Linked DNA regions of Homo sapiens. The protein of the gene in region 2 interacts with the protein of the main gene of each other region in a pairwise test. Each region holds a gene or a part of one and is shown on either strand. Other genes may lie near its edges. The genes, in order: TMEM218, TMPRSS2, SEC22A, TMEM229B, STX7, PTCH1 and ANKRD46.

Region 1 (4,732 bases), on a different chromosome or scaffold from region 2:
AGAGTACCTACTTCATAGGGCCGATATGAAGAAGACATAATACTTACAACACACTTAGAAAAATGCCTAGCACATGTTTGCTAAATGTAACAAAAATTGTTATTTTGACATGTGGAACCCTAGACTTATTTCCAAGTATTGGGATGGAACTAGAGATTAAAGGTTGAACTTTATGAACTATAAAATCTCTTCCAATCCTGAGTTCTTATGCTTCTATGAGGATAATCAACACTTTTCTAGATTCGTTTCCATACAGTTCTGATTCTCACATCTGGAAATTCATTTCTATGTAACAGCCAGATACTTAAAGGTTTAAGCAAAGGAATTATGATTGAATGTTTGTTATTCATACTAAAATGATCATTAGAATCCTTTAATGAAACTTTTACCTTTTTGGATATGTGTTAAGAAAATGTCAGGTACAAACAGCTAAGAAACAGTATTAACCAATGTAAAAATAAGGAGTTACTTGAAAGTCAAAAGTGATCTTTCAACTATTTGAGAAATGAGATGTCAGGAATCCTGATGTCAAGTTGGAGCCCCACTTCTAATTAACTGTGAAACTTTTTAAATCCCTTGTCCTCTCTGCCTGTTTCTCATCTGTAAAATAATCACAGCAGGTTTCTTTACACATTGAGCAAAAAATAAACCAGAAACACTTCAACTGCAACAACCATGAAATAGAGTTGATACTAAAGTTTCTGTTAAATAACAGAACAAAAAATGGATTGCTTTATGTTAGAATAAAAACATTTAAAAATAAATTGGATGCCCTCCTTCCAGGAAGCAGTGAGGAAGACAGTCTAGACACCTTACAGCCTAGTTCTTCCATGGGCTTACTCCACCAGGACTAGTGCTTTACACCCTACGGGCACACAATATATGCTGAATGAATGGCAGGATTCGAGAATGAATGGCTATGTACTCCCTAGTCCCTGGACATTGGTATGGTAATTCTGATGCAGTTTTACATTAAATTTACATTGTACACAAAGAATGGTAGCTTTACTTCCATTTTTATCAGTGAAAAATTTAAGGAACTTAACAAATTACCCATTGTGATCTCCATTGTGGGGATAGGGTGGTATCCTCCTAATTCAGCTTTTGTCAGGATACAATTTTAAGACGCCACGAAATAACCTATTTTCTTATATAGAAACCCAGATTTACTCTCCCTCTCCACCTTCTAAACAGTGGGGATCACCAGTCTGCCACAGGATCCCCTCTGGGTAGGGAACAGTAGAGGGAACATGTTCTAAGGCCACTGATCACAGAATGGTTCTGAACACTAAGATGACTTCTGTCTGTATTTAAGGAATGACCTCTGAGCCCTGTCTCCAAGAAGGCCATGAGCATACAGGGTACCATAACAGACATTGACTATAGGGTTATCCCATGCCAAACTCTCAGTGAAATCCATTTTGAGCCCTCTCAGCCTTCTACGTCTTATCCCAACCCTGCGGGGCTTTTTTTGCATAACTGCATTGAGTATGCAGGTAGAAAGAAATCTATCATTCATTTCACCACAGCTGGTAATTATAGACTCCAGGTCTGTAGACTGTAGGTCAAGTCAAGCTGAAATAAACTTTGCACAGGGTATTTTTTTTTTTTTCCTAAAGCCAATCTTTAACATATATGCCTTTCATTTACATCAGGCAAAAAAACAAAAATTAGAAAACAGTAGTATTAAGGATAGAATTTAGTTTCCAACCTTAATACACTTTCCTCCATCTAAATAGTCACCCAAAACCTCATAGTTATTATCCATTGATCTAATAGTTGAATAACTTTTGGGGGGAATAAAAAAGATGGATTCATGGTCAGGAACCTATAAGAGTTTTCCCAGAGTTACTTTTTTAGCAAGGCTCTCAGAAGAAGGTAACAATTGGCAGCTTGTGCTTGTTAGGAGCCAAGCTTCCACTTGGGCTGCAGGGAGACTCACAATAGCATGAGGCCCCCAGCTTGTCTCAATTCCCTCAAGACTTATGCATTCTTTTTTCTCTCCCTCAATCTGCTTAGAGGATGTTTCTTCTTTTCTTACCTGTGTGCCCTAGGCCAGATTAGGAAACTATTTCCTTTGAAGTTTTCTGTACAAAGCCTTATCTGCAAAGTTTTTCCAAACTAAGTAAGATAAAGGAAATGGTTCAATGTAGGGATAACTATACCTGGCCCTCACCAGCCCATGACTCTCAGTGGTTACCTGTTCTCTCTTCTTGGAATTTAGAGCTTAGTTGCCTGTGGGGTGGCAGGACTGGGTAACTTCTCTACCCTGAAAACAGAATTGAGGAGAGAAAGTGAAGGAACAGTGTGGCCTTAACCTACCTGAAGCTCTCAATCAGAGTTCCACAAACCCTAGTGTGTTTTCTCTCTGAGACAAGCCCTGGGGCCTACCACACCTGGGTTTGCACACTGGCTGTTAGGTGAAGGTTGGGCAAGTCAGCTGATCTCTTTAAGCTTCCATTTTTTCTACTTTAAAGTGGGGATGATAAAAATGAGACCGTTGTAAAAATTAAATAAATTAAACCTCAAAGGAATTAGTGTGCTATTGGCATAGAGCACATACTCCATCAGTGATCTCTTTCCAACTTGTTTTCTTGGTTCTTAATTTTAAGCCAGAAGATTCTTTTTCAAATGGCTCTAGGGAGTCAGGATCAGACTTCCAAAGTGGAACCTGACCAGGGCCCCTCCATTTAATGCAAATTTCATTTGGTCTGGGAGATCAGACAGGTATAGAGTTATATCTGATGTTGAGAATATACCTTCCTCACTAGCTTTGGAGAAAGGGCTACAAAGATGAAAAGTGAAGACACCCCAAAATGGACTCATGGTAATTAAATAAGGCACACACAGCCCACCACATCATGGAAGAAAAAAACCTACAGATACATGGCAAGACAAAAAACAAAAAACAATATTTCCATACCTTTCCTCTAATCCCAAGGAAACCTAAAGAACTTGATTAAAAAGCCGTGGCCAAGAGTTCGAAGTGAAAGTCAGCCCTTTAGCTATTATTTATTGCTTTATTAGAGCAGAGGGAAGTGACACTCATTGCCTTCACAGAGCTCTGCAGAAATATATGCACAGAGTGGTCAATGACCAACATCTGAGTAAGTCTTCCAAATTATCACATTAAAATAACCTTTCAAATTTGAGTGCCTCTCCTTTGCAAACAACTGCAACCTCATAATGAATAATTTTATATATTATCAAAAAGAACCAGAAGCCCAGGTGCTTTTTTCCCCAAAATCCACTTACTAAGGACTTGAGTGAAAATCCACTCTAAGCAGATCACTGTTACTATTTCCCTTTCAAAACAGTTGGAAATCCTAAGGTACGGGTACTAAGAAGATAGCAATATCCTTCTTAAGCTGGTAAGAATCTAGCCCCACAGGGACAATTTGGCAATCCTGTTTCTGGAAGCCAGGACTCCAGAGATTTGTCTTAGTGATGGACAGATACTCCTCTAACCTTAAGGCATGAGGGCTGTCAAAACAAGGCTCTGAATAGTGCCTTCCTGCTCATCAATGTCATCACAATGAAGGAGAGAACAGGTTTTCGTTTTCCTGAAGAGTGGTCAGTAGGAGTGCAGTGGTTTGGCATAGATCGGCTCCAGAACATAATGGATTAAAACCAAGAAGAGGCCTCCAAGGAAGATGGCACTAAGGAAAGCCAGCAGGACATAGCGGCCAATGAAAAAGTCATCCACAATCTGGAGAAAGAAAACATCAAAATGAAATTACTACCAGTTAGACACCCTGGCTGGGTTAACCTGAACTCCATGATGAGTGGGCCAAGAGTTAGTTCATGTGTATAACTTCCAGTAACATCCTGCCCTGAGTCTCCTCTGTACATGAGAAAAAAGAATCTTTTCCTCAACTCCCTGAGCAGGAGACACAAGAAGGGATTAATGAGGGACAGGGAACAAATGGCTCAATTTAGGATGTTGGTAAACACTTTGAAGTCCCTGGATGAATTCTTTTATATTCTGAAATCTGTTACCTGAAAGAGTTAATGAGAAGCTTTTGCATGGTCCTAGAAAGGCTCATTTTTGTTGTTGCTAAAATACATTTTATTACGGAGAATTTTAAACATACATAAAAATGCAATAGTATAATAAACTCCCATGTATCTAAGACCCAACCCCCAAAATCATCAATCCATTGCCATTTCAGGAGGGTTCATTTTCAAAATGAAAGGTGACTCTTTAAAGCTATCAGCGGAAGAGTCCCATGCCACGGGGCAGGGAAAATGACCATTTACCTGAGATACTAAAACACTAAAAGGATAGGTAACTTGCCCCAAAGCAGACAGTGGGCTGCCTGGCCTTACACTTGAGGCCCCAAAGATGTTGGTCTTTGCTGACAAAACCCTATAATTGGTGTTGGCTCTACCCACTTGTCCACTGACCCCTTCCAGAGCTCCACTCTCCCCAGATCCAAATGGTGGTGCTTAAATTTGGGCAGGAAAAAGCAATTTAATCTATAGACCTAATGGAGCAACACCACCAACCAAGTGGCTGACTGACTTCACAGAAACTTTGAAATCCCAGTACCTAGGAGAATCCAAAACAGCTGAAAGGCAATTGTGGCAGACAGAATAATGGCCCAAAGATATCCACATCCTAATCCCCAGAAATTGTGAATATGTTAGATTATATGTTAAAGGAGAATTAAGATTGCCAATCAGCTGCCCTTAAAACAAGGGGTATTAATCTGGATTATCCAATCCAGGT
Region 2 (4,409 bases):
GGGTGGGGCCCTTATGGAGAACCTCTGCTAGGGCAGTGCAGAAGGGAAATGTGGGGTTGGAGCCCCTACACAGTCCCTACTGGGGCACTGCCTAGTGGAGCTGTGAGAAGAGGGCCACCATTCTCCAGACCCCAGAATGGTAGATCCACCAACAGCTTGCACCATGTGCCTGGAAAAGCTGCAGACCCTCAACACCAGCCCATGATGCAGCCAGGAAGGAAGCTATACCTTGCGAAGTCACAGAGGTGGAGCTGCCCCAGACCATGGGAACCCACCTCTTGCATCAGTGTGACCTGGATATGACAGATGGAGTCAAAGGAGGTCATTTTGGTGCTTTAAGATTTGACTGCCCTGCTGGATTTTGGACTTTTAAGGGGCCTGCAGCCCCTTTATTTTGGCCAATTTCTCCCATTTGGAATGGCTGTATTCACCCAATGCCTGTACCCCCGTTGTATCTAGGAAGTAATTAACTTGCTCTTGATTTCACAGGCTCATAGGTGGAAGCAACTTGCCTTGTGTTGGATGAGACTTTGGACTGTAGACTTTTGACTTAATGCTGAAATGAGTTAAGATTTTGGGGGACTGTTGGGAAGACCTGATTGGTTTTGAAATGTAAAGATACGAGATTTGGGGGGTGCAGGGGCAGAATGATATGGTTTGGCTCTGTGTCCCCACCCAAATCTCATCTTGTAGCTCCCATAATTCCCATGTGTTGTGGGAGGGACCTGATAGGAGATAATTGAATCATGGGGGTGGGTCTTTCCTGTGCTGTTTTTGTGATAGTGAATGGGTCTCACAAGATCTGATGGTTTAAAAAATGGGAGTTTCTGTGCACAAACTCTCTCCCTGCCTGCTGCCATCCATGTAAGATGTGATTTGCTCTTCCTTGCTTTCTGCCATGATTGTGAGGCCTCCCCAGCCATGTGGAATTGTAAATCCAATAAACTTCTTTCTTTTGTAAATTGCAGTCTTGGGTATGTCTTTATTAGGAGCATGGAAACAGACTAATAGAATAATAAGAAGGAGTCATTTGAGGGACCTCTCCAACAGGACAGGCTGCAGGAACTGAGGGCACCAACCACAGGAGCACCAAGTCTGGCCTTGCCTCACCTTTGGTCCTCTGACCAGCAGCCTCAACATCACCCCCTTATAAGGAAATGGAGGCTGGTCCTACTCACCAGGCAGAACTTCAAAGATGCAGTAGTTACTTTGAAAAAAAAATTGCATAATTTATTTGCATGATATTCATTTTCACAATTGAACTTTACAGTTTAAAAAAGATACAAAAAAAGACAAACAGTTGTTCACATAAATAAGAAGGGGCAATAAAGAAGGAAGACGTTTTCACCATTACAACACCTTTTAGGATGTGTCTTGGGGAGCAAGCACCTTACAGTGCCAACTGTTTCCAAGGTCCCTGGGAATGCTGCTCTCTACAGAGGCATGTGCACAGACAGATCCTGCAAATGGGATTGCATGACTTTCCATTTCAAGGTTAAGTCCTAGCTGTAGAATCATTCATTTCATTCTTGCAAACCAGCCTGCTTGGCCAGGAGGCAGAACCATGGTAGAGTAGTGCTCATGGTTATGGCACTTGGCAATGCAAAAGGGACCCTTCCCCTGGTTGGAAACCCACAGCATTGGAAGGGACCACAGAGAGTCCAAAACAAAACACATCTTTCTCTTCTTCGCCGCCACCATGGGCACTTTGCTTCAGCACATTCATTTATAGAACGTTAAGTCAGGAGCCAGTCATTTTGTCAAAGCAGCTGAAATAGGCCACCACTCTTACTTGGCAAAGATGATACAGTTTCAAAGAGTTAAATGAAGGTGGACTACTTGGAGACATCAAAAGCTAAGTTTCCAGGAGCACTGAGGTAGCAATGTGTAGAAACATAACATGGAAACAGTGTACCTTAAACTGAGCATCCTTGATTTCCCCCATGGACCTCAATTTCCAGTGACTAGCAGGCCTGAAGAGGCCAACATGGTGCCAGACTTGGCGCCCTGCCAGGACCAAGGGGCATGTGCACTCTCCAGGGTGCTAGGAGCAGGGTCAGGGAGGATGAGGAGGAAGGCTGAGTCTCCCTCCCAGGAGCCCCACCCAATGTGCAGGTGGAGACCTGCACCAGGAGTGCTCAGGGCAAGTTCCTTTTCAATTGCTTCCCTCGCACCAAGGGCACTGTCTATATTCTCACCCCATAAGAACAAAAATGTTTCTGTTCCCCTTACAAGTGACTACCACGTCACCACCCATGAAGGGCTGGTCCCTTTATTTCTGGCCACCATCCAGGGCTGCTAAGGCTCTAAGAACCCATCAGCAAAATCCCCTTGTGGAGAGGTAGGCTGGGGACACTACCAAGTGGCCCCAGAGGGCAGCCGCTGCAGGTGCCACCTGGCTGTCTCCCTTTCCATGTCTCTCCTTTTTCATCTCAAGTCATCCAGCAGCTGAGAGGTGACAGCTCCATGCTCATCCAAAATTGGCCCCTGGAAAGGACTCAGCAGGAAGATCTCAATGGGGCAGCCTCCACCCCTCTCCTCCACACTTGACCGCCAGTGCCCACAACCAGCCGGCCATCACCCCTTGCGGACAAGGGGTTAGGGAGAGCAGGCTGGGCAGGGGAGCCACTGCAGCCTGCACAGAATGGCAGAGAGTGCCAAAGCCAGACAAGTTCACTGTTTAATAAAAATGAAGTGACCTCTGAATCATCTCTAAGAGTAAATCATGCACGGGGAAGCAAAACCAGCCCCATTGTTTTCTTGTAAAACGACGTCAAGGACGAAGACCATGTGGATTAGCCGTCTGCCTGTTCAAATAGGAAAAAAAAAAGTGTGTTATTTTCTTAAGACAAACAAAGGTGGAAAATAATTTTTTCCTCTAGGTTCGCATGAAGCACTTAGAAACCAAATAAGCAAGCTTAATAGCACAAAGGGATCATTCTTCTCTCCAACGTGTTGGTCAGAGTCAGGCTGAGCATGGCGGGGCAGGAGCTCCGGAAGGAGCGGGCAGCGGATGTGGAGGCCGGCACAACAGGCATCTCTTCAGCAGAGTCTGGGCCTCCCCCGGCTGCTCTCCTGCCACGCAGCCCTTCCCTCCCTGCACAGCCATGCGGACCCACCTGCAGCCGCCAAACACACCTGGATCATTTCCTAGCTCCATCCTGGTGCGAGTCCGCCCCTCAGCCTGGCTGACCATCCCAGCCCTGCCAGCTTCCCTCCTGCCCTGCCTCCTCCTCCTGGGGTCATCTGTTTCTAGCACTGGGCCCTGGGCCAGGTGACGCCCCCTGGGCCCCATGGTCATGGGAAGGCCCTGAGTCCCGCGTGTCATTTGAAGGAGACACAGGTCGGGCCTCAGCGGGAAAGGCCCCCTGGTTCTGCTCCTCCTTCAACAGACTGGGCATCTGGGAGATTTGGGAGAAGACAGAATAGACTGCTTTCTTCCACTAGTAGCCCAGCCCCAGAAAGCACAGAAATCTGAGAAAACTATACGTCTGAGGTCCTGGAGATGAGAAGATCTGGTTCTCACCCCCTATCTGGACAATGCCCAAAGCCAGGGCTCTGCTAAGCAGAGACATCCATGAGGCTCACATGGAACCCCTGAGACCTTCCCTCGTGCTTGAGTCTGGGGCATCAGAGAACCCTGGCTGCTCCTGCCCTTCCTAACCTTGGGGGCTGCCCAGGAGCCACTCGATGGCCCCAGAAAAGGATGGGCACAGCCGGCTCTTCCCTCTGCTCTCTATAAATCAAAAGTTTCATGTGAGGCCGGGCACCGTGGTTCACACTTGTAATCCCAGCACTGTGGGAGGCTGAGGTGGGTGAATCACCTGAGGTCAGGGCTTCGAGACCAGCCTGGCCAACATGGAGAAACCCCATCTCTACTAAAAATACAAAAAGTAGCTGGGCGTGGTGGCGCATGCCTGTAGTCCCAGCTACTTGGGAGGCTGAGGCAGGAGAATCACTTGAACCCAGGAGGCAAAGGTTGCAGTGAGTCGAGATTGTGCCACTGCACTCCAGCCTGGGCGACACAGTGAGACTCCATCTCAAAAAAAAAAAAAAAAAGTTTGATGTGAGGTGGCCTGGGTGGAACAGCTGAGTCAGCTGAGCCAGAACGAAGTGTGGTTGGCAGAGCACCAAGGAATTTCACACAAGCTGAGCCCCAGCGCTTTTCATCCAAACACCAGGGGAAATATGCAAGTGAAGCCAGTGAGAGGCAATGGGCAATGGGTGGACACTGGGGGGATGGGGCTGTGGCTGGAGGAAGCAGAGTTTGCTTCATGCTGACCAGTGGTCACCAGTCAGCTTCCAGCAGCAGAACCACGCCTAACAGATGTCTGGCTTTGGCTCGAGGAATCGGAGAACACAGTCAGAAGGAGGACAGGATAGTTACCCTCATTTGTCGATAAATCCAG
Region 3 (4,732 bases), on a different chromosome or scaffold from region 2:
GAGAATACTCCATCTGCCCACAACATAAGAAGGTGACACTTCTTAATAATTTCTCATTTTAACAAACTGAACTAGATATTTAATCACATTTTAATGTATTAACTATTTGTTATTTTTTTTACTTCAGTAAAACAGATTTTAGATCCACTATTATCCAAAAATGCTTAATTTGGCACCATTCTAGGTACTATAATATTTGGTGTAGAATGTTTGTAACAATAACAAATAAGAGGCAGTGTAGAAAAACAATAATTTTGCTGAATCCAAAGCAGTGTCATCTGGTCAGTTTTTGTTTTGCTTTTGTTATTATTGCCTTCTCCTATAAAGTCTTTTCTTTAGTCTTCTTGAACCCAAGGATGGCATGTTGATAACAAAATTAAATGTTTCTGAAAATGTACCAATGGTTTATGGAGACTCTGCAAAAGTTCCTAAAGAAGTAAGAATAAACCCCTTAGAACCAAAGGAACCAAAGAGCTATTGGTTACAGTAAATTAATATATTTATTCAGTAAATACTTTCTGGCATGGTTCTGTGTAAGATGCTATGCTTTCGAAGATACAAAAATTGAATTACATATTCTGCCCTCAAGGCACTTCTAGTCTTTTATAAAAGAGATAAAACAGATAAGTATATGAAAGTAATAAGCATTCTAAGCTAAAAGAGGCAAGGAATGATGAAGTGGAAAGATAAAGTAGGGGGAGGGTGGTCTAGAACCAGGAAAGAGCTTTGAAGATAGATAAAATGTAGTCAGGTACAAAGGGGAAGAAATGCATTCCACGCAGAGAAAAGAATGTGAATGTGATGGAGATGGAAATGGGAGAAACGAGTAACAACAGCATCAACAACTACTACTTCTACCAACAGTGACTGCTCTCAACACGCCAGGCACCAAGTGCTTTATATACTTGGTCTCACTGTATCCTTCCAACAACCCAATGCAGTAGGCACTATAATTATCCTGGTTTTCTGCCCCACCCCGCCCCCTCCCCACCCCTCCCAGAATAGGAAAGGTTTAGGGACATTAAATAATTTGCTCATGGGCACAAAGTAAGTACGTGAACTGGGATTTAGATGATTCTGGAATTCATGTTCTCAGCCATTCTGCTATAGGGCATTGCTAGTGGTTTGGTTTGGCTCAAAGCGATGTTTGTGACAAGTGGGGAGAAATAAGGTCAGAAAGGGAGGTGGACACAAATTGATAGTATACAATTCTAGGCTAAGAATTATGGAAAATTAGACAATGGGGAACCACTGAAGAACAAGATTCTCATATGATGAAGGTTATACTTAAAGAAGATTAATCTATTAATGGGTTGTAAAGAGATCAAAAGTAAGGGAGGGAGAAATAATATTTTTCTGAGTACCTTCTCACTAAGCACCCATTGTCTCATTTACCCTTCAGAATGGCATACTTCATGAGGTAGAAATGACTAACTTCTCTGTGACTGAACTGGAATGACTAACTTTTCTGTGCCTAAACTTTCTCATCTGTCAATTAAGATTAAATTATTTTCTATAAGTCAGACAGCCAGAAGGGCCATCTTCACAATTAGCACTTAGGTCTATCTGACTGCAGAGCCCATGCTCTTTCTACAGTTCTACATTAGGAAGTTTGTGGGAGAGTCACTGCAAAAGACTGACTGAAATCAGGGCCTGAATCAGAATAGTCACAGTAGAAATGGGAATCTGAGTGCTTGGGAGTTCATTAAAGAATAAAGCTAAAATTAAAAAAAAAAAAGAAATGGGGAAAAAGAAGTAAGATGTCATGGAGGTTAAAATTATTAGACTTGGCAACTAATTAGATGTGGCAAACAAAAGGGGGAAAAAAATTCAAAGAAATGTTGAGGTTTTACCTCTAGGTGATCGGAAAGATGAGAGTACTGAGCAACAGATCCACAGGAAGAAACTTAAGTTTGATAAAAAATGGGGACATTTTAACATCATATTTGAGGTGATGGTGGGCCGTGTTTAACAAGCAACTGAAGAATGGAATAGCTGGGAGAAGCAGACGAGGTCTGCAACTGAAGGGAAAGGTTTAAATGAGCGTCAAAGAAAGAAGCAGGCCAAGGGAAATCCTTGGTAAACACTGTCAGTAAGGGATGGAAGAAGAGTCAGGGAAGGCAGATGCAGGAGAATCAAGTGAAACCTAGGAAGGAGAGACCATCAAGAAGAAAGATATGGCTAACAGTGCCTATAGATAGGCCAAAAAAAATCTGACCTTAAAGTAAAAAGTATTAGACTTATTGAACAGGAGATGCTAGGATTCTCCTTAAAATTTTTTTTTTTTTTTCCAGAAAAGTGGTTGAGGGCTTTTTAGATCTCACAAATAAGTGAGAACATGCAATGTTTGTCTTTCTGTGCCTGGCTTATTTTACTTAATGATCTCCAGTTCCCTCCATGCTGTTGCGAATGACTGGATCTCATCTTTTTCATGGATGAACAGTACTCCATTGTGTATATGAACCACATTTTCCTTATCAAATTCAGATTGCAAGAGGTTGAACAACTGGCGATGTTAAGAGGTGGAAGCATTAAGTGAATACTACTGAAGTTAAAGGAGAGAAAAACAGGATGAAAGCTTAACAGAGATAATAGGATTGAGAAAATAATTCTTTTTTCTCTTACAGTGTTGGAGGGAGGGAGGAAGACTTGAATACATACATAGGTGGAATGAAATAATTCAGTGAAGATGAAATAGAAGAATCAAGAAAAAGGAAAAATAATTGATGAAGCAAAGTCCCAGAATAGTCCTTATGACGATTCAAAGAGATGGTACCATTCGAAATCTCAAAGATGCCCACAATGCCTAGGGAAACAGACTGTGGAAGATAAGAGAGAAATTTCAAGTCAGTTCCATCTAAATGAGCCTAATTTATTACTGAAGTGTGACTGAATGAGACTAACAGTCTGGCACAAAAACACACTATTCTTTTCATCAGTGAGGCCCTTCTTTATCATCACCACCTGTAAAAATCATGCATATCCTTCAAGGCTCCAAGACCTGAGTCTTCCTTCTTACCTCTTTTGGAGCATGTATCACATTCTACTTTGTGTTTTACTTATTGGATTGTATTTCCCTTTCTCATTCTGAGTACAGTTAATGTGTTTACTGTATTTCTAAAAAATGCCTCCACAAAATTTAGCATAATACTTTAGAGAAAAAAAATGATAAATACCTGTTGGATTATGAAGGGGATGTGTGTGTGTGTGTGTGTGTGTGTGTGTGTGTGTGTGTGTAAGAAAGAGAGATTAGTAAATCTATTTGGCTTGTGGGCACCAGCCAAAACAGAGCAGCATTTTCAGGCAACTGACAAATTTTCTAGAAAATGATAAAATAGATGAAAAATATACAAGTGTCAAAGAAACTGACAGAAGTGTTTCTATCAGTTTAAACCCTAAATTTAGGGTTTTGTGAAGTTTTTTTTTTAAAGCACAACATAAAAGTAAAAAGACTAACAACACTAAATGTCGGTGAAGATGTTGAGTAATCAAAATGCTCACAAATTGCTTGTTGGGAAAGTAAAATCTTACAACTACTTCAGAAAACTGGCAGTTTCTTAAACAGGCAACCTTTTGACCTATCAATTCCACTCCTAATATTTACTCAAGGGAAATGAAAATATATGTCAACAAAAGGATGAATGTTCATCGTAGCTTTATGTGCAATAACAAAAACTGAAACAAGTTTACGTCCATCAGCAAGAGAATAAATAAACAAATTGTGGTACATTCATACAATGGAATACCGCTCAGGAATAAAAAGGAACAAATTACTGAGACAGGCAACATGTATGTATGACATCATGCTGTGCAAAAGAAGCTGAACACAATAGTCACACAATGTAGTCTTCTTTTATATAAAGTTCTGGAACAAAACAAAGTTCAAGTGGAAAAAAATAAAAACAGTCGTTGTCTAGAGGATGGTGGAAATTGACTGAAAAGGGACACAAAGAAACTTTTCGGGGGAGATGGAAATGTCCTATATTGTGATAAGGGTGTTTAGTAATCATGTCTTTTTATTCTGTATTTTTGATGCTTTGACCTCTTGGGCCTTGCTGACCATGGAAGAACTGCCTCTCCCAGGGATAGCTAATTCCTAGTGATGGCAAACAACTTGTCTGAGTCCACCTTTCATACGCATTCCAATCAATCCAGACTCACACTACCAACCAACTCCTCTACAAGGCTCTCACAGCCAGGGCCATTATTTCCCTATCCCAATCATCCCAGGGCCACATGTCAGACAACCAGAGATAGAACCTATGCCCCAGAGTCCATTGAAATTATTCAAACTAGCCAATCTTAAAACCTCCTTACCCTGCCTCACCCATTCCTTACCACCAAAACCACAATAAAAGTTCTTGCATGCAATGGCAGCAAAAGCCAAAATTGACAAATGGGATCTAATTAAACTAAAGAGCTTCTGCACAGCAAAAGACACTACCATCAGAGTGAACAGGCAACCTACAAAATGGGAGAAAATTTTCGCAACCTACTCATCTGACAAAGGGCTAATATCCAGAATCTACAATGAACTCAACCAAATTTACAAGAAAAAAACAAACAACCCCATCAAAAAGTGGGCGAAGGATATGAACATACACTTCTCAAAAGAAGACATTTATGCAGCCAAAAAACACATGAAAAAATGCTCACCATCACTGGCCATCAGAGAAATGCAAATCAAAACCACAATGAGATACCATCTCACACCAGTTAGAATGAGAACACA
Region 4 (4,732 bases), on a different chromosome or scaffold from region 2:
CTACTTGCTGATTTCTCAGCAGGCCTATCCACTGGGGACCCCATTTCTTCCTCCACTTCTTCTCAAACAGTTCCATGTCACTCATATTTCTGAGATGTAAGTGACTCATCACATTTGTCCTTGTGTGTGTGCATGCCATTTTTTAACCATGTGTAAGTGTACAATTCAGTGGTCTTAAGTACATTCACATTGTTGTGCAACTGTCACCACCAACCATCTCCAGAACTTTTTCATTGTCCCAAACAGAAACTTTGTATCCATTAAATACAAACTCCCATTCCCCATACCCTCAGCCCCTGGCAACCACTATTCTATTTTCTGTCTCTATGAATTTGACTACTCTGGGTGCCTCATATAAGTGGAATCATACAAACACTGTCCTTTTGTGACTGGCTTAGCATAACTGGCTTAGCTTTCACTTAGCCTAATGTCTTTAAGGTTCATCCATGTTGCAGCACATGTCAGAATTTCCTTCTTTTTTTTTTTTTTTTTTTGTGACGGAGTCTCGCTCTGTCGTCCAGGCTGGAGTGCAGTGGCGCAATCTTGGCTCACTGCAACCTCCGCCTCCTGGGTTCAAGCGATTCTCCTGTCTCAGACTCCTGAGTAGCTGGGACTACAGGCACACACCATCATGCCCGGCTAATTTTTGAATTTTAGTAGAGACGAGGTTTCACCATGTTGCCCAAGCTGGTCACAAGCCCCTGAGCTCAGGTGATCCGCCCGCCTTGGCCTCCCAAAGTGCTAGGATTACAGGCGTGAGCCACTGTGCCCAGCCAGAATTTCCTTCCTTTTAAAGGCGGAATCATATTCCATTGTATATATCACCATATTTTGTTTATCCATTCATCCATTGATGGACACCTGGGTTGCTTCTACCTTTTGGCTACTCAAAATAAGGCTGCTATGAACACGGGTGTACAAAGGTCTGTCTGAGTCCCTGCTCTCAACTCTTTCAAGTACATATGCAGAAGTGGAAATACTGGATCATATGGTAATTCTATGGTTAACTTTCTGAGGAACCACTGTGCTGTTTTCCACAGTGGCCACACCATTTTACATTCCCCATCAGCAATGTACAAGGGTTCCAATTTCTCCACATCCACCCCAAACACTTGTTATTTTCTGTTTTGTTTTTATAATGGCCATCCTAATGGGTGTGAGGTGGTTCTCTCATTGTGGTCACATTTGTCTTTGCTCCATTAAATGGGGTTTTGGTGTTTGGTTTCAGTGCTGAGGGGAAACCAATGGATTGACACAGGAAAGAGTCCTCCCCAGTCCTTCTGGCTCCTTTCCCCTCCCCTCTTTTAAACCCCACCAGTCTTCAACGCCCGGCTCCCATGCTGCTTCTCTCTACTTTCTCCTCACCCTCCACCAGCGACTGTCTGCACCACTTACCTGGCCCATTATCAGGTGCCACCCCAATGGCTTTTTGAGGTATGTGCTCTCATGATCCAACTAGCATGTGAACTCCTTGAGGATAGTGACTGTTGCACAGGCCAGTGCTTTGTGGCCTTGACGCAGGCCCGTCCTGGGCAGGCCCTCTCTAAATGACATGTCCTGTTCATGTGGAGGGAGGTGTGGGACTGCATCAAGAATGGGAAGGTAGGGCTTGAGAACATAAATCCCAGCTCTGCCAGCTGCTAATGGCTTCACATCTCTGTCGATCCCCTCTCCAAGGTGGGAGAAAAGACAGAGGTTAAGGAAATGGCATCTGTAGTATGCACACCTGTCTGGGAATTCCAGCCTCACATTTCAGCTGAAGCAGGCCTGGTCACATTAATACCTACCCAGCCTTGTGCATTGCTCTGTGGTCTTCCAAGCACTTCGTTCGCATTTTGTCATGGTTCTTACATAATTAAAATTCAGGCTGGGCGCAGTGGCTCACACCTGTAATCCCAGAACTGTGAGAGGCTGAGGCGGGTGGATCACCTGAGGTCAGGAGTTTGAGAACAACCTGGCCGACATGGTGAAACCCTGTCTCTACTAAAAATACAAAAATTAGCTGGGTGTGGTGGCATGCACCTGTAGTCTCAGCTACTTGGGAGGCTGAGGCAGAAAAATTGCTTGAACCCAGGAGGCGGAGGTTGCAGTGAGCCAAGATCATGCCACTGCACTCCAGCCTGGGCAACAGAGCAAGACTTCCTCTCCAAAAAATATATTTATAAATAAAATAAAAAAGATTCATGTGAAGGTCAGAAAATTTTACTCCCATTTTTTTGCAGTGAGACAGAGCTCAGAGAGGGGACATTATTTACCCCATATCCCAGGGCCAGTAAATGGAAGAGCTGAGATTAGAACCAATATCTCTTGCTTTCTACTGCAGAACTCATCCCCTGCACATGACTGCCCATCTCTTAGACATACGTACCAAATGTCTCTCCCCTGCTCAAAAATGCTCGATAGTGGCTGGGCACAGTGGCTCACGCCTGTAATCCCAGCACTTTGGGAGGCGGAGATGGGCAGATCACCTGAGGTCAGGAGTTCAAGACCAGCCTGACCAAAATGATGAAACCCTGTCTCTACTAAAAATACAAAAAAACAATGGATGGGTAGGTATTAATGTGACCAGGCCTGCTTCAGCTGAAATGTGGTGGCATGCGCCTATAATCCCAGCTACTTAGGAGGCTGAGACAGGAGAACCGCTTGAACCTGGGAGGTGGAGGTTGCAGTGAGTCGCGATCGCACCATTGCACTCCAGCCTGGACAACAAGAGCGAAACTCCATCTCAAAAAAAAAAAAAAAATGTTCGATATCTCCTTATTTCCTAATGAAACACAACAGCATCCTTGGCCTGCCATTCAAGATTCTTCATGACCTTGCCCCGATTGACATCTTCAGCCTTTTCCTCACAATCCAGCTCTTCCTGTCTTTCATCTCCATGCCTTTGCAGGTCCTATTCATTCTGTTAGGCGTGCCTTTCTCCTCTCACTTCCATGAGTATAAACCAGCTTGCAGGTTACCTTCAGAACAAAATCTCTTTCATTCCCCCAGGTCCCAAGGCTTCTCTTCCTCTTCTGAATTTCTACAGCACTTACTCTGTCTCACTCCCTTTGCTACAGGTTATTTTCAATATTATATTGAGAATTTCTGTCCCCGGCCAGACCTCTTTCCTGTGTGCTACACCTATAGCTCCTGCCCTTCCCTAGACAGCTCCCCCTAATGTCCCACAGGCATCCCAAACTCCTTTCCTAAATCAAACCCATGGGCAGGTGTGGTGGCTTATGCCTGTAATCCTAGCACTTTGGGAGGCAGAGGCAGAAGGATCGCTCGAGCCCAGAACTCTTGAATTCAAGACTAGCCTAGACAATGCAGTGAGACTCTGTCTCTAAAAAATAAATAAATAAAATCAAACCCATTATCTTTTCCCCAAAACCTGTTTCTCTCCTAAGACCCCCACCCCAATTAATGGCACCACCATGCACCCAGTTAGAACCAGCGGTCTCAAAGTCTGTCTGGCTTCCTCTGCCACATCCCCACCCTAACATGAGTTCCTGAGAGTGAGGGCCTTGCCTGCCTGGTTCAGCATAGTATTCCCAGTGCCTGGCACAAAGCCCAGCACATAGTAAGCATTCAAGAGAAGAATAAAGACATTTCTTAGTTAGCAATCGCCATATAACAAATCATCTCAAAAACCCTGGCCTAAAACAACTACCGTCTACTATTACAGCTCACATGTCTGTGGTTGGCAGACGGCTGGGGCAGCGTAGCTCCACTCCACCTGTCTCTCATCCTCCTCCGGGGCCCAGTGGACTTGCCTGGGCATATTCTTCTCATGGCAAGGGCAGAGGCACAAAGCTGAGCAAGGCTAGCTGTACAAGTGTGGTTCAAGACCCTGGCTAAGCCATGCCCACCATCATCCCACTGGCCAAGGGAAAGCCACCAAGTCAGCTACTAACTCCCACCCTTACCACCTCTTAAATATCTTTGGGATCCATCCCCTCCTCTTCATTACTCTTCTCATTGCTGCCACTGCTCTGGTTCACGCCCTCATCATGTCTCACCTGGATGACTCCAAAGGTCTCCCAGCTTTGCCTTCTTCCTTCTAATTCACTCATCACAGGATGAAAGAGTGTGTAGAAAAAACGCAACCTTTCTAAAATGCAAATCCGATGTTTCTCACCACTTGAAGCCCATGAGTGGATCTTCAACATCTACAGAGTAAATAAAGCTCAAACCCCTGGGGACGGCTGGCAAAGCCCTTCACAACTCGTCCCTGCCTCCAATCCTGTCCTCCAGATCTCTACCTTGCTGTTTTTGCTACCTGGGCCCCACCCAGGGCCGGTGAACCCTCCTTTAAGACCCAGCTCCTCCTCTGTGAGGACTTTCCTAAGCACCCTGACTCCAGAGTTGTCTTCCCACTTCTGCACCCTCCCTTCTCTGTGGTAATAGTGAGCACTCTGCTTCACTGGATTCATCTGAACGCCAGCACCAGCAGCCTCCTGAGGAATGCTTGTTTAAGATAGTGGTAAGAGAAAAAAGCAGGATTCAAAACTGAATATTCAACCTAACTCCGATTCTGCAAAGGCATGCATATGTGCACATATACAAAAAAATTAAACAACAATCATCTCTGGATGGTGATATCATATGTGCTTTTTTTCTTTATATTTTTCTGCATACTTTTTTTTCCTAACAAGCATGTATAACTTTTATAAAACTAAAATTTCATCTTAAAAATGCTTATGGAGGCTGGACGTGGTGGCTCACCCTGTAAACCCAGCACTTTGGGAGG
Region 5 (4,732 bases), on a different chromosome or scaffold from region 2:
TCTTTCAGCACTTGAAAATTGTTCTGCCACTTCCAGCCAAGAGGGGTGGCTCACGCCTGTAAGCCCAGCACTTTGGGAAGCCAAGGCGGGCAGATCACTTGAGGTCAGGAGTTTGAGACCAGCCTGGCTAACATGGCGAAACCCCGCCTCTACTAAAAATACAAAAATTAGCCGGCATGGTGGTGCACATCTGTAATCCCAGCCATTTGGGAAGCTGAGGCAGGAGAATCACTTGAACCCGTAGGCGGAGATTACAGTGAGCTGAGATCGCACCACTGTACTCCAGTCTGAGCAACAGAACGAGACTCCTTGTCAAAAAAAAAAAAAAGGAAAGAAAATTTCATGGTTCCCCATGAGAAATCCAGTTTTTTAAATTGTTTTGGTCCCTATAGATAGGTGTCATTTGTCTTTTTTCTTTTTCTTTTTTTCCTTTGTGTTTAGTTTTTAGTTGTTTAACCATGATGTATCTTGTAGATTTGGGGGGTTTATTATATTTGAGGTCTTCTCACCATCTATATGTTTATGTCTTTTGCCAATTTTGGGGAGTTTTCAGCTGTCATTTTTTTCAAGAACTTTTTCAGTCTTCCTTCTTTCTTCTTTCTTTTGAGACTCTGATGACACAAATGTTAGATTTATTGTAGTTCCGTAAGTCCCTGAGGTTCTGTTCATCTTTGTTCTGCCTGTTTTCTTCTGTTGTTCAGACTGTGTAATTTCTATCATTTTATCTTCAGATTTATTCATTCTTTCTGCAGTAGCTTCCATTCTGCTATTGAGCCTATCAATTAAGTGTTTCATATTGATTCCTGCATTTTTCAATTTTAAAATTTCTGGCCCTTTACCGAAAATGTTGGTTGACCCCTGGAGTATAAACCTATACTATAGAAGAGAGTATCAATTTTTTTTTTTTTGAGAGGATCAATTTAAACAAAAGTTGGTCTCTTTAAATAAATAAAGTACACATAACTTGGTGAAACCGATTTGGAAAAAAACAGAAGACATAAAAAATTTAGGAATGAAAGTACAGATAAATAACCAAACATAGATTTTAAAATAATAAGACACTATAAACAACTTTATGCCAATATATCACAAAACAGAAAATGAATAATTTATATGAAAAATGCAAATTACCAAAATCAACTACGAAGTAGATGATTTCTGCTTCCTGCCATATGGTTGACTAGGTATACTCAAGGATCCTCCTGCTAAAATACAGTTAGTTCTTGGATAAAATACAACACACATAATATTAGTTCATTTCCTGGCTCATTAGAAAGAAAGATAATCACTAAAGGCTATTACCAATGAGAGTGGGCTAAAATTAAAGTAGTTGAGAAACAGGAAAACTGTGCCTCTGAGACTTAAGCCATGGACTCCAGGCAAAGTAAAGAAAGTGAACCTAAGATTCCTTCATAAAACCAGGAATGCTTTAAAGCATTAAAGTAGTCCTAAGTCAGTGGACTCTGGTGGTTACTCTAAGAAGTGGATGAAAATCCCCTCCGAAGGAAAGCCTCCCTAATTAATGCTTCTAGATTAATCAAACATGCAAGGAAACACACCATTTGCATTGAGAAACAGTAGATTTAGATATTCAAGGAATTCAGGTATTGCAATTAGCAGAAGTAGAATAACAGTTATATGTTTAAATAATGTATGAATTAAAACGAACATGAAATGAGAGATGTGTTAAAAGGCAGATATTAAAAAGAACCAAAGACAACTTAGGTATGAAATTTAATTATTGAAATATATAACATAATGAATGGTTTAAGAGCAGATTCACCACAACTAAAGGAATTGTTGACTATCAAGTTTTAACTGAGGAAACAACATATTGCAGCAAAAACAGGTAAAGGGATAGAAAATAAGAATTAGAGATTATGAGACCTGAAGGATAGAATGGGAAGGTTTAATATGTGCTGATTGGAGTCTAAGAAGTAAAAAATAGAAAAAAATTGAGGTAATTGCTGACAAATTTCCAGAGCTAAGAAAAGCCTGGGACCTGGTATGGTGGCTTATGCCTGTAATCACAGCATTTTGGGAGGCCAAAGCAGAAGGATCACTTGAAGCCAGGAGTTTGAGATCAACCTGGGAAATGAAGCAAGAGCCCCCACTCCATCTCTACAAAAAAAATTAAGAATTAGCCAGATGTGGTGACATGAACCAGTAGTCCCAGCTACTTGGGAGGCTCAAGTGGGAGGATCACTTGAGCCCAAGAGTTTAAGACCAGCCTGAGCAACATGGTGAAACTCCATCTGTACAAAAAATACAAAAATTAGCCAGGCATGGTGGCACACACCTGTGGTCCCAGCTACTCAAGAGGCTGAGGAGGGAGGATCACACGAGCCCAGGAGTTCAAGGCTGCAGTGAGCTATGATGGTGCCACTGTACCCTGTCTAAAAAAAAAAAAAGTGGATCCACATATACAAGAAGCAAAATGTATATCAACCAGGAAAAGGAAGCCAATGTATATTCATTATACTCAAACTTCAGAACAATAAAGGCAAAGATATCTTAAAAGCAGCCAGAATAACTTATCCACTTTTAAAGGAATAACGAATTGACAGACCTTTTTTTTTTTTTTTTTTTTTTGAGACAGAGTCTTGCTCTGTCACCCATGATGGAGTGCAGTGGTGTGATTTCTGCTCACTGCAACCTCCATTTCCCGGGTTCAATTGATTCTCCTGCCTCAGCCTCCCGAGTAGCTGGGAGTACAGGTGTGCGCCACCACAACCTGGCTAATTTTTTTGTATTTTTAGTAAAGACGTGATTTTGCCATGTTGGCCAGGCTGTTCTCGAACTCCTGACTTCAGGTGATCTACCTGCCTTGGCCTCCCAAAATGCTGGGATTAGAGGCATGAGCCACTGCACCTGGCCAACAGTAGACTTTTCAGTGCCAAAACTGGAAGGCAAAAGACAGTGGAATAACATCATTAAGGTACTGAGAGAATAACTCAATAGAATGAGTGCCCAGTGAAATTATCTTTCAAAATCAAGGGTATATTAAAAACACTTTTTTCTCAAAATGAGAATTTACAAACAAGGGACTTTCACTTAAGAATAAAGATGAATTTTAGAGTACAGCAAAATGACTAGGAGGAAAGTCTGAGATGCAAGAAGGTATGGTGAGCTAAAAAATCAGTAATCATGGGAAATGTAAATAAATACTGTCTATATTAAGAAGTATTTACTCTGTGGAGTAAAAAAGAGCGTAATTAAAATACTAGCAACATTTTACATAACTCAGGAAATGTATATGTGGGGAAAGTGTCCGGGAGCACTTAGAAGTTAGTGTGAGTGCTCCAAGATCCTGATACTCTTTAGGATGGAAGTTAAGATAATGAATGACTTTAGATGTTGTTAATCTAAGTACTTAACAGAAAATTTTCAGATAACCTTTAAAGAATAGCAATACAATATAACTTTCAAACCAGTAGAGAGGAAACATTCTGAAATAAGGGAAAAACACTTTAGAAATCCCAACTTTGATAGACCACAAAAATGCAAGAAGGAAGAAAAAGCATAGAAAAAGCAAAGAAATGGCATAGTATATAATAAATGGTTACAATAAATATAAATTGCCTATCTCACCAGATTAATAAAAAAAAAAGTCTACCTTGTTCAATATATACAGTTTACAAAAGACAGTACAAGGACAGAGAAAGACAAAAAGTAGAATTAGGGAAAATAAAACAAGCAAATATACCTGGTTAGGATAGCTGTATCAGTATTAGCCTTACAAATATTAAAGTGAAAAGCATTAATAAGGATAAGGAGACTCTCAAAAATAATAAAAATTTCAACTGAAGTAGGTATAACAGTTCTAAACAAAGTTATTAAAGTAAAAATGTAGAGGGCAAAACGGAAAAAAAAACTATTATGTTGTATTTGAAGTCACTCAATTTTTAGCTCGAGCAGCAAAAAAGTAAATAGAACAACATGGTAACCAAAGTTGATTCAATTAATACATAAAGGATCATGTTCCCCCAATTTAGAGCATGTGCATATTTCTTAAGCATGTATAAAAGATTTAGAAGGAAAATGATAAAGGAATGTTTTGGGGACCTCTGATAGGGAAAGATTTCTTAGAAAATCTGCAAAAGATATTAACCATAATCTACATAAAGTCAACTGTTTTATTTCAAGCCTCTCTGGAAATAGTTTTGTTGACTGATAAGAAACGCTCTATGTCAGTCAGCTAATCAATGTCTAGTGAGTCTAACTCTTTCCACTACACAGTAAGTTCCATCTTAGGGTGTTTTACTTAAAAGCCTGGTGTCAAATGTTACACGCACAAAAACTTATTAGTATCTTTTTAACCAATGTATCTTAGGAGATACGGAATTATTTCTAACACACTGGTTGTATTTACTAATTTTCCGCTGAGCCATCATAAAAATAGAAGTCACATCGTCACTATTTCTTGCTTGTCCAACCCAGTGTCTATGGTACCCTCGGCAGTTATTCATGGCTCCTAGGCCTTCTTTTAGAGTACTGTCTCTCTTCTATTGGCTTTGGATGGAATTGACTCCATCCTAACTGCAGAAATGATAGGCACTGCTTTACATAAATCAGTCAGCCTAATAGCATTCTTTTTGCCTCAGAGATTGGTTCAGAGATGGGGAAAAACCCACTCTAGGCAATCAGCTTGTGACTTACTTTCCTCCAATTGGTGATCCAATTAGGGCAGTGTGTGGAATGTGCTGCTCTGTATGTGCAGCCAGATGCTCAT
Region 6 (3,633 bases), on a different chromosome or scaffold from region 2:
TGACACAGCGCAGCCCTTCTTTTTTTCTGATGCATTTTTTAAAAAAGTTCTACGTGATTCCAGGGCAGGGAGAGAAGCTGAAGTTGGGCTAACATTAAAGAACCCTGTTTTAGGACAAGGGCCATGGCTAATCAGTGGCAGTGGGTGCTGCTGAGGGCTGGTGTCGCTGGAGTTCACTCTGAGTGCTGTATTTACTCCAGGGCTGAGACTGCTCGTCTCTTCTCCGTTAACTTCACAATTGACTTGCGGTCCCATCGGCTCCCCACTAATCCAAAACAACTCATTCTTATGGCCCTCCTCCCCCTGTTCATTTGCTGGCCACTTTTAAAAGGTCACATGCAGCTCAGTAGAGGTCACTGCTTGGGAAACAAAGGCCAGCTCCTGTCACATGACCTGACCAAGGGGCCTGCAGCTGTGAACAGATTCTATGCCTTGCTAATGTTTTCCAGACACCTTTGCTAACCAAGTGTTTTTTTAAACACTGTTATGTGCTTTAGTTCTGGAATTCACAACTGGTTACTAAACATGTCTCAGGGCACCCCAATTAGAACTAGTCTTTTAGATATTATCCCAGGATTTTCAATATCAAAGAAGAGGAAAAAAGTTTTCATCCCATCAAGTTCCCAGAATTGCAATGTTTTGAAAATAAAGCGAATGGAAAGAAATGTTTTAAATAATGGTGAAAATGAAGAATTGCATAACCAGCGAGTCTGCACGCCGATTCGAAGGTGGGTTTACCTCCACATATGTCCTCTGCCAGGCCTCCAGGATGGCTGCCGCTTTGTCCTCGTTCCAGTTGATGTGTGAGACATACTCGTACCCCTTGAAGTGCTCGTACATTTGCTTGGGAGTCATTAACTGGAACATGGTCTGCAGGGCATGGGCGCTGCAGCACAGTCCAAGGGAAGGCACATCATCAGTATTCCCAGGAAGCAGTTTCCACTGCCTCAAATCCCCAGCCAGCTCCCCCAACTCACTGGCTGCAATTCTTTTCCTTCTCTGTGAGCACATGTTTCCATTAAAATGGGACCAGGATGGTTATTTTATTTAATAGATTGATGTACCATATTAAAGGTATAACCTTACAAACCTTTTACAGATATACCCCAAAATTAAATTAATAGGCAATTTCCTTTCACAGTTTCCATTCCATGAAACAGGAAGGGGAGAGGAGCAGATAGCTTGAACAGATACACCGGGCTCAGTGACGCATACTTGCTGTGCAGAAATCCCAGACGGTGGCGTTCCCAAGGGAGAAATCTTACACGAAACGCCAGACACCTGACTGACCAGAGTCCACAAGTGCACAAAGGATAATTCTTATTGAGCCGCTGGCTCTCCATCTTTTGCTAACAGTCTATGACACTGTGCAGCTCGCACCACCAACTCTCTCTGACCAGTGTGTCCCGGCCTACTTTACACCTGCTCCCATTCTCTACCTAATGGGCAGATCTCCTTAAACCCTATAGTCAGGAACTATGGTCCTGATGAAAACTACAAATCCATTCTTGAAAAATTCCCCACAAGGTGCTTTTTCAAGCTGTTGCAGTCTGCTACTATTTCTTAATATTCTATGACGCCACCTGGCTAGCGAGGATAACGGTTTAAGTATTAATACAAATACACTTGCCGATGTCAGGAGGGAAGTGGCTTTTGAGGAAAGGAAGAAGACTACAGGGCATAGATTGTCCTCGGGAGCTGGCTTACCTGACGAGTTTTCCAGTGCTGTTCTTGACTGTGCCACCCACAATCAACTCCTCCTGCCAGTGCATATACTTTCTGGATAAGCCATGACATCCACCATTCAAAACAAGGGCCATATCAAGAGGCTAAAATAAAAAGACAGCCACATAATTATGGGAATTAGTAGGCAGGTCACATGCCTTGTTAAAATCCAGTGCATTAAGGGCTTGTGTGTTTCAGAGAGAACATTAATAGCAAGGCTAATGGGAGGTGTATGGCAAATCTTACAGCAAAATTTAGCTCTATAAATAAACTTAGTTCCATAGACAAAGACGATCATGGAGAATGAAATGTTAAAAATGAAAATAATAAAGTGAACGATGAATGGACACAAAAAAGTGTTTTGCTCTCCACCCTTCTGAGAGCGCTCACTGCTGGTACTCACTTTGGTTGAATTTTTGTTGGGGGCTGTGGCGGGGCAGTCTGGATCGGCCGGATTGAGGCAGGGGCGGTCCATGTAACCATGACCAACCTCAGCCTTATTCAGCATTTCCTCCCAGCTGTCCACTTGATAGTTTATTTTCTTTAACTCTTCCAGGAATTCCAAAGGGTCGAAGTTTGTCCACCGCAAAGGAGGTTTACCTCTGCAAAAGAAATTAGGAGACGAGACCATGAAAAGAGCCTTCTAAACGCATCGTAAAGTAACACGGCTGCGCCCACTGCATCCACCTTGTAGGAGGTTCCTGGCAATGCTGCAGTTCTGGGACTCTGGCATCAAAACAAATGCTCCTTTCCAGCATATCTGCATAAAAACTTAGGTCAGGAAAATAATTCATGACTGAAGATGCTAAGCAGAGAGAGGACTCATAAGTTAATGAGGGCACTGAATAATCTTTAATTGCTGATATTGTATATTTAATATCTACATACAAAATTAGCCAAAAAGACAGATCCAAAATTAAATTTTTTTTTTTTTAAAAAAGAGGGCGTCACAATATCAAATTAGCACTTGGCAGCCAAATAAATACTTTGTAAATGTCATCAATCAAAATATTTGATCTCTGCTACCTTTAACAATCCCATACTTATGAGCGCTCTCTGACAGCCTGGCAATGGAATGGGCAAGCCCCCTGCAGCCTCTGCCATCACCACCATCACAGCCACTTCCCCCCACACTCACTTTTGAATCTGTGCTGTTGACAGACCAGAAAGGCTTTTGGCTGCCTGTTATGTGGTTCAAACCACACTGTAGCTGCTTAACCAGGCTGAAGTCATTATTCGGAATCTCCCAACCAGAAAACACAAAACCCCTTATTTCCCATCTAAAACTGTACACTGAAGGTCAGGGGATGGCCACTGCAAATTGCTTTTGCAGATATGTGCAAGCCAGGACAGAAACAATAACCCAAGCTCTCACTCTTGCATAATTAACTGAAAATGTCTATGCTGATTAACAATTATTCTCTAAATGATGCGGTATATATAATATCCAACTGCTAAACGGTGAAACATTCCCTACTGTGGCCTTCACAGATAGTGGATTTCCCCCTTAAATGCCATTAGTGTGATCTAAAGAAAGGTTAGCTTTTTACTTCACAGGAAGATCTCAAACTCAAAATATTTCATTCTGATGTGAACCCACTCACTAATAAAGTCTCTCCTTAAAAAATAAGTGTCTAAATGCCTCGTCTTCGAAACTACGAACATTTTAAAGAGTTAAAAAATCACACGTACTCTGCAATAATTTGCATTTTATTTGCATATAAATAGGTTGGTAAAAGTGAATGAAATTTAATGACGCCTACAGAATTGTTTTTTGAAAAGAGAAAAAACATTCTGCTGAAATCCCCTCTCCCCCGACTATTCACTCAAAAAATGCACATGGAATTTCAATGTTTTTATTTCTTGTTCAAAACTGAAATGGAACAAACAATGATAAGCAACATTAGA
Region 7 (4,732 bases), on a different chromosome or scaffold from region 2:
AAGAAAAAAGAGAACATATAGTCAAAAAAGTGGATAAATCTAGTTCTAGATTCATTCTTATTTGATATTTACATTTTATGAGACAAGTACTTTTTTTAAAAAAGTCTAAGAAAAAAATGTCAAATAAGCTGCTTCGGTTCACGCAGCTATTTAGCGCTAATAATAGGTTAGAACCCCAATCACATTAAATCCTGCAGTCAATTCCTACCCCATTTTGTCCTGCAGAAACAAAAGCATTTACTGTCTTATTCAGATTTAGGGGCATTATGGCATCAATAAATTAGGGCAGTGTGTAACTGTAATTTAAAGGTCAAGCTCAGTTTTACAGGTGACTTGACATCGTTCCCACTCAAAAAGCAGAGTATCACTAAAACAAACAAAAAGCCCCATGACTTCCTCAAATTGTTCAGTCTAAAAAGGATCCTGGACTCCCGGGAGATTATGAAGCTCACATGGTGCGTTACATGACAGAAGGCACACAAGCGTTAGAGTCAGCGGAACTAGGTTCAAATTCCAGCTCTGTCCCTTATAAGCTGTGACCTTTTCAAATCCTCTATAAACTGTGTGAACTTTGTCCAATCCTTTTTTGTCTTCACTATCTAATCTGTAAAATGAAAACACCTATTGTGAGAGCTCTTCATTCTGAGGACTAAATGAGCTAACAAGTAAACACAGTCTAGCTCATAGATTTTCAACAAATGTTCTTTTCTTCTTCTTCCCTTGTTGTAACACTACATAATTAGTAGCAGAAACTACCTACTATTTTCATAGAAAAAAATATGCTGCTTTAGCAAAAATCTAGAAGTCAGCCCCTCATTCCCTCACTTGCCTAACAGGATTACACTGTCTTCAATGCTTTCTGAACTTATTTCAACTGATTAATGAGGAAACAAAACCAACAGACCCAAGATAAGATTATCAGTTGAGAGATTAATGGGAAGAAATGACTAGACTTCTAAAACAACAGAGAACTTACCAAATATCAATTTTGAGTCCATTGGAAACCAAAAATTGGATAGTATCCACATGGCCACAGAGGTGAAGAGCTGTGTTTCCTTGATAATCTGTGGCCAGAAGATCGGCACCGAATTTATGCAGTAACTGGCAGATGTCTACATTCCCTCGAGCTGCTGCAAGGTGAAGGCCTGTTCTGCCCCTGCTGTCACGAATATTTGGGTCAAAGCCACTTTCCAAAAGCCGCTTGGAATAATTAAAGTCCCCATCAATACAGGCTTGCAGCAAGGGCACGTTAGTCTGAGAAGAATCATTTACAAAAACATACGACATTGTTCTGATGTGGTGGATGGAACACGCCTGTAATGAAATAGGTGAGTGAGATTCCATGAAGACAAATGAAATCAAGACAAAGGAGTCATTTAGAAAAGCAATATTTCTCATCCTTTTTGGCCTCCTGCCTCTAATAAATAAATGACCAAACAGAAACAACAACAAAGTTATCAATTGTATTTTATTTTCCATTAAAACATTTTATTTTCTTCACATCTGCTGGATTAAAATTCCAATTCAATTACTGTAAAGCTCTATTTTGCTTTTCACCATGTAAAAAGATTAAGAGATATTTTTAAAGTTAAGCAAGACATAATAGCTTAGATTTAAGTATTACATTGTCAGAACACATAGATAACATGGTGTTTAAACATCAAAGAACTACCCATATATAAATGCTACTGCTGGTAGACATTCTTATTTAATACAAACTAATTCTCTTTGATATATTTGCTTCTTCTTGTATTTGAGATATTCTACATGGTAACTAAAACTACTTGCATGAAAAGAACTTATACTCAACAAAGACCTGTAGAGTGTTATGTTTATAGCACAATTTTTTTTTTTTGAGATGGTGTCTCGCTCTATTGCCCAGGCTGGAGTGCAGTGGCGCGGTCTTGGCTCACTGCAACCTCCATCTCCCGAGTTCAAGCGATTCTCCTGCCTCAGCCTCCCAAGTAGCTGGAATTACAGGTGTCTGCCACCATGCTCAGCTAATTTTTTGTATTTTTAGTAGAGACGGGGTTTCACCATGTTGGCCAGGCTGGTCTTGAACTCCTGACCTCATGATCCGCCTGCCTTGGCCTTGCAAAAAGTGCTGGGACTACAGGCGTGAGCCACCGCGCCTGGCCTATAGCACAAATTTTAAGAGAAAGGCTAAGGAATGTAACAAACTGAATTTAAAAATCAGAGCATGAAATCAATTCAGATTATGCTTTTTCCACTATTGATCTTATTCTGCTGTGCTCTGTGGTTATCTCAATATGTGACTGTGCCAAATTCCCACCGTCCAAAGACTGAGAGATGAGGGGAAAAAAAAGTAGGGCTGTCTGGGAATACCAAGTCAGGACAAAGCAGCAATCCCAACTAGGTCTGATGTGAATTTCATCTCTTGGACTCATCCAGCTCACCAGTTTGCCCACATCTCTTTCACAGATGTTTCCTGGCCCCACTGGCGCACCTGAACTCAGGTGAGAGTTCAGCATCTGCCTGGTGCACCTGAACTCTCAGGACATTTTGCTCTACCAAACTGCATACAACTAGGTCTCTCTCTCTTCCCCTAGGTTCATTTAAGAAAGAGTTAAAGCCTGTCAAAAGAAACTTCGCTAGGAAATTGACGAGAAAACAAACAAGAAAACAGAAAGGCAGAGACCAATGCTTTTCTAGAGATGGCTTTTTTATTCTTAGGTTACAAAAGCTTAGTCACATATGGACTTGGCTTATACAGCTGATCAGGTAAAGTCTCTTTCTGAAACACTGATGGAACTGGACGCTAGACCCATCTATTCTTGTGCCTAACCTCAAGGGGATTCAGGGAAGCCTGGCTGCTGAGTTTGGTGAGATTGCTGCCCCTATTCCTTTCAACTTGGCTTCTCAGCAGAGCCATTGTCCCAAAATCTGGGGCTGCCTTACACAAGGGCTCTGCTGCTACCATGGGCTCTCTGTGGAAAGAGTGGGCATTAACATACACTGAGACTTGTTCTGAGCCAGGTACCAACTAGGAGCTTTTAATGAATTTAATTTAATCTTCCTAACAACTCCACAGTTAGGCTTTTTTATACCTGAATTTCAGTGAGGAGCCACTGAAGGATTTTTTTTGTTTTAAATTGAGACAGGTTCTTGCTCTGTCACCCAGGCTGGAGTGCGGTGGTACAATCATGGCTCACTGCAGCCTCAAACTCCTGGGTTCAAGCAATCCTCCCACATCAGCCTCCTAAATAGCTGGGACTACTATTTCAATGAGTCCAGCCCACTGAAGAATTTTAAGTCAAAGAAATGGCACAGTCTTATTAGTCTTTCAGAAAGATGACTTGGATGGCAATATGGAGGCACTGGATTGTAGAGACAAAGACTGGAGGCAGGGAGATCAATCATTAGGTCATTGCAGCTATCTAGGCAAGAAATGAAAACCTGACCTAAGGCAGTGGCAGGCAGAAGGGGACGCACTGGAGAGGAACAGAGAAGACAGAATTAGCACAACTTAATGACTCACTGGATATGAAATGAAGGGTGAAAAGGGGCTGTTAAGAATAATTTCAAATACGAAAAAAAGTTTATGATTAAAAACTACAGAGATTAAAATCAAAATAAACTTCAGATTATGATACATATGATGACTTTTTAAAAATCTGGCTGGACACAGTGGCTCACACCTGTAATCCCAGTACTTTGGAAGGCCAAAATGGGAGGATAGCTTGAAGCCCAGGAGTTCGAAACTAGCCTGGGCAACATAGCGAGAGACCCTGTCTCTATAAAATATTTTAAAATTAGCCAGGCATGGTGGCGCGCGCCTTTCGTCCCACCTGTTCGGGACGCTGAGGTGAGAGGATCACTTGAGCCCGGGAGGTCGAGGTTGCGATGAGCTGTGATTGAGCCACAGCACTCCAGCCTGGGCATCAAAGTGAGGCCTGTCTCAAAAAAACAAACCAAACCAAACCAAACCAAACCAACAAACAGAAAAACTCAATGAGAAGAATTTACTCAATAAAATAGTCAAGAATTCTTTTGCGAGGGTAATCTAAATATTTTCCCTTACAGCAAGGGTGTCCAACATTTCGGCTTCCCTGGGTCACAATGGAAGAAGAATTGTCTTGGGCTACACATAAAATACATAATGATAGCTGATAAGCTTTAAAAAATTGCAAAAAAAATCTCAGAATGTTTTTTAAAAGTTTATGAATTTGTGTTGGGCTACATTCAAAGCTGTTCTGGGCTGCAGGTTGGACAAGCTTGCACAGTATTGAATCATAAAAATGGAAAAGCTATCATAAACCTTTTTCAAAATGAAATGCCACATATCAAGTGCTTTTCAAAAGGTAATGTGTTTTGGTTAAATTTTTAAAAATAGATAATTTAAAAAATCTAGTTGGTGTTTTTGATTCAGACACAGTAAGAATTCTTGTGGTTTGCAGACTAGGATACTTCTGAGTGTTGGCTCAGCAAGAAATACAAGTCTCTGTGTCTATTTTTCAGGTGAGAACAAGTGTGTATTTTGTCAGTTTCTCTGTGTCCCTGAGCAACTACTAAACTTAATCCCACATTTAATAAGCCCAATGATAGTTATTTTTCATCTTGATCACAGAACTGAATCTGTCCTAAAGCAGTTCACTGAAGGTTTCACATCTTGTGAGGAAGTCCACAGTAGTAAATACTCACGTAAGCCTTAAGATTAGATCTTTTCGTTCAGTGGTCACTCAGCAGTTTCTCTGAATTCTCAAGAAGGTTC

What was found.
Region 1: the proteins of TMPRSS2 (region 2) and TMEM218 interact in binary tests that used the Homo sapiens proteins (3 or more experiments, as listed by UniProt).
Region 3: the proteins of TMPRSS2 (region 2) and SEC22A interact in binary tests that used the Homo sapiens proteins (3 or more experiments, as listed by UniProt).
Region 4: the proteins of TMPRSS2 (region 2) and TMEM229B interact in binary tests that used the Homo sapiens proteins (3 or more experiments, as listed by UniProt).
Region 5: the proteins of TMPRSS2 (region 2) and STX7 interact in binary tests that used the Homo sapiens proteins (3 or more experiments, as listed by UniProt).
Region 6: the proteins of TMPRSS2 (region 2) and PTCH1 interact in binary tests that used the Homo sapiens proteins (3 or more experiments, as listed by UniProt).
Region 7: the proteins of TMPRSS2 (region 2) and ANKRD46 interact in binary tests that used the Homo sapiens proteins (3 or more experiments, as listed by UniProt).

The regions. Positions count from the first base shown.
Region 1 is NC_000011.10:125,094,032-125,098,763, forward strand, and holds the end of TMEM218 (transmembrane protein 218), read right to left. Parts: intron 3,710-4,732; coding exon 3,575-3,709; 3' UTR 358-3,574; downstream 1-357. UniProt on the Homo sapiens protein: May be involved in ciliary biogenesis or function.
Region 2 is NC_000021.9:41,463,347-41,467,755, forward strand, and holds the end of TMPRSS2 (transmembrane protease serine 2), read right to left. Parts: coding exon 4,388-4,409; intron 2,808-4,387; coding exon 2,796-2,807; coding exon of another isoform or gene 2,774-2,795; 3' UTR 959-2,773; downstream 1-958. UniProt on the Homo sapiens protein: Plasma membrane-anchored serine protease that cleaves at arginine residues. Participates in proteolytic cascades of relevance for the normal physiologic function of the prostate.
Region 3 is NC_000003.12:123,239,508-123,244,239, reverse strand, and holds part of SEC22A (vesicle-trafficking protein SEC22a), read right to left. Parts: intron 1-4,732. UniProt on the Homo sapiens protein: May be involved in vesicle transport between the ER and the Golgi complex.
Region 4 is NC_000014.9:67,474,440-67,479,171, forward strand, and holds part of TMEM229B (transmembrane protein 229B), read right to left. Parts: intron 1-4,732.
Region 5 is NC_000006.12:132,446,698-132,451,429, reverse strand, and holds part of STX7 (syntaxin-7), read left to right. Parts: 3' UTR 1-4,732. UniProt on the Homo sapiens protein: May be involved in protein trafficking from the plasma membrane to the early endosome (EE) as well as in homotypic fusion of endocytic organelles. Mediates the endocytic trafficking from early endosomes to late endosomes and lysosomes.
Region 6 is NC_000009.12:95,478,262-95,481,894, forward strand, and holds part of PTCH1 (protein patched homolog 1), read right to left. Parts: exon of another isoform or gene 3,566-3,633; intron 2,328-3,565; coding exon 2,129-2,327; intron 1,830-2,128; coding exon 1,708-1,829; intron 887-1,707; coding exon 739-886; intron 1-738.
Region 7 is NC_000008.11:100,528,547-100,533,278, forward strand, and holds part of ANKRD46 (ankyrin repeat domain-containing protein 46), read right to left. Parts: 5' UTR 4,663-4,732; intron 3,915-4,662; exon of another isoform or gene 3,810-3,914; intron 1,315-3,809; 5' UTR 1,288-1,314; coding exon 977-1,287; intron 1-976.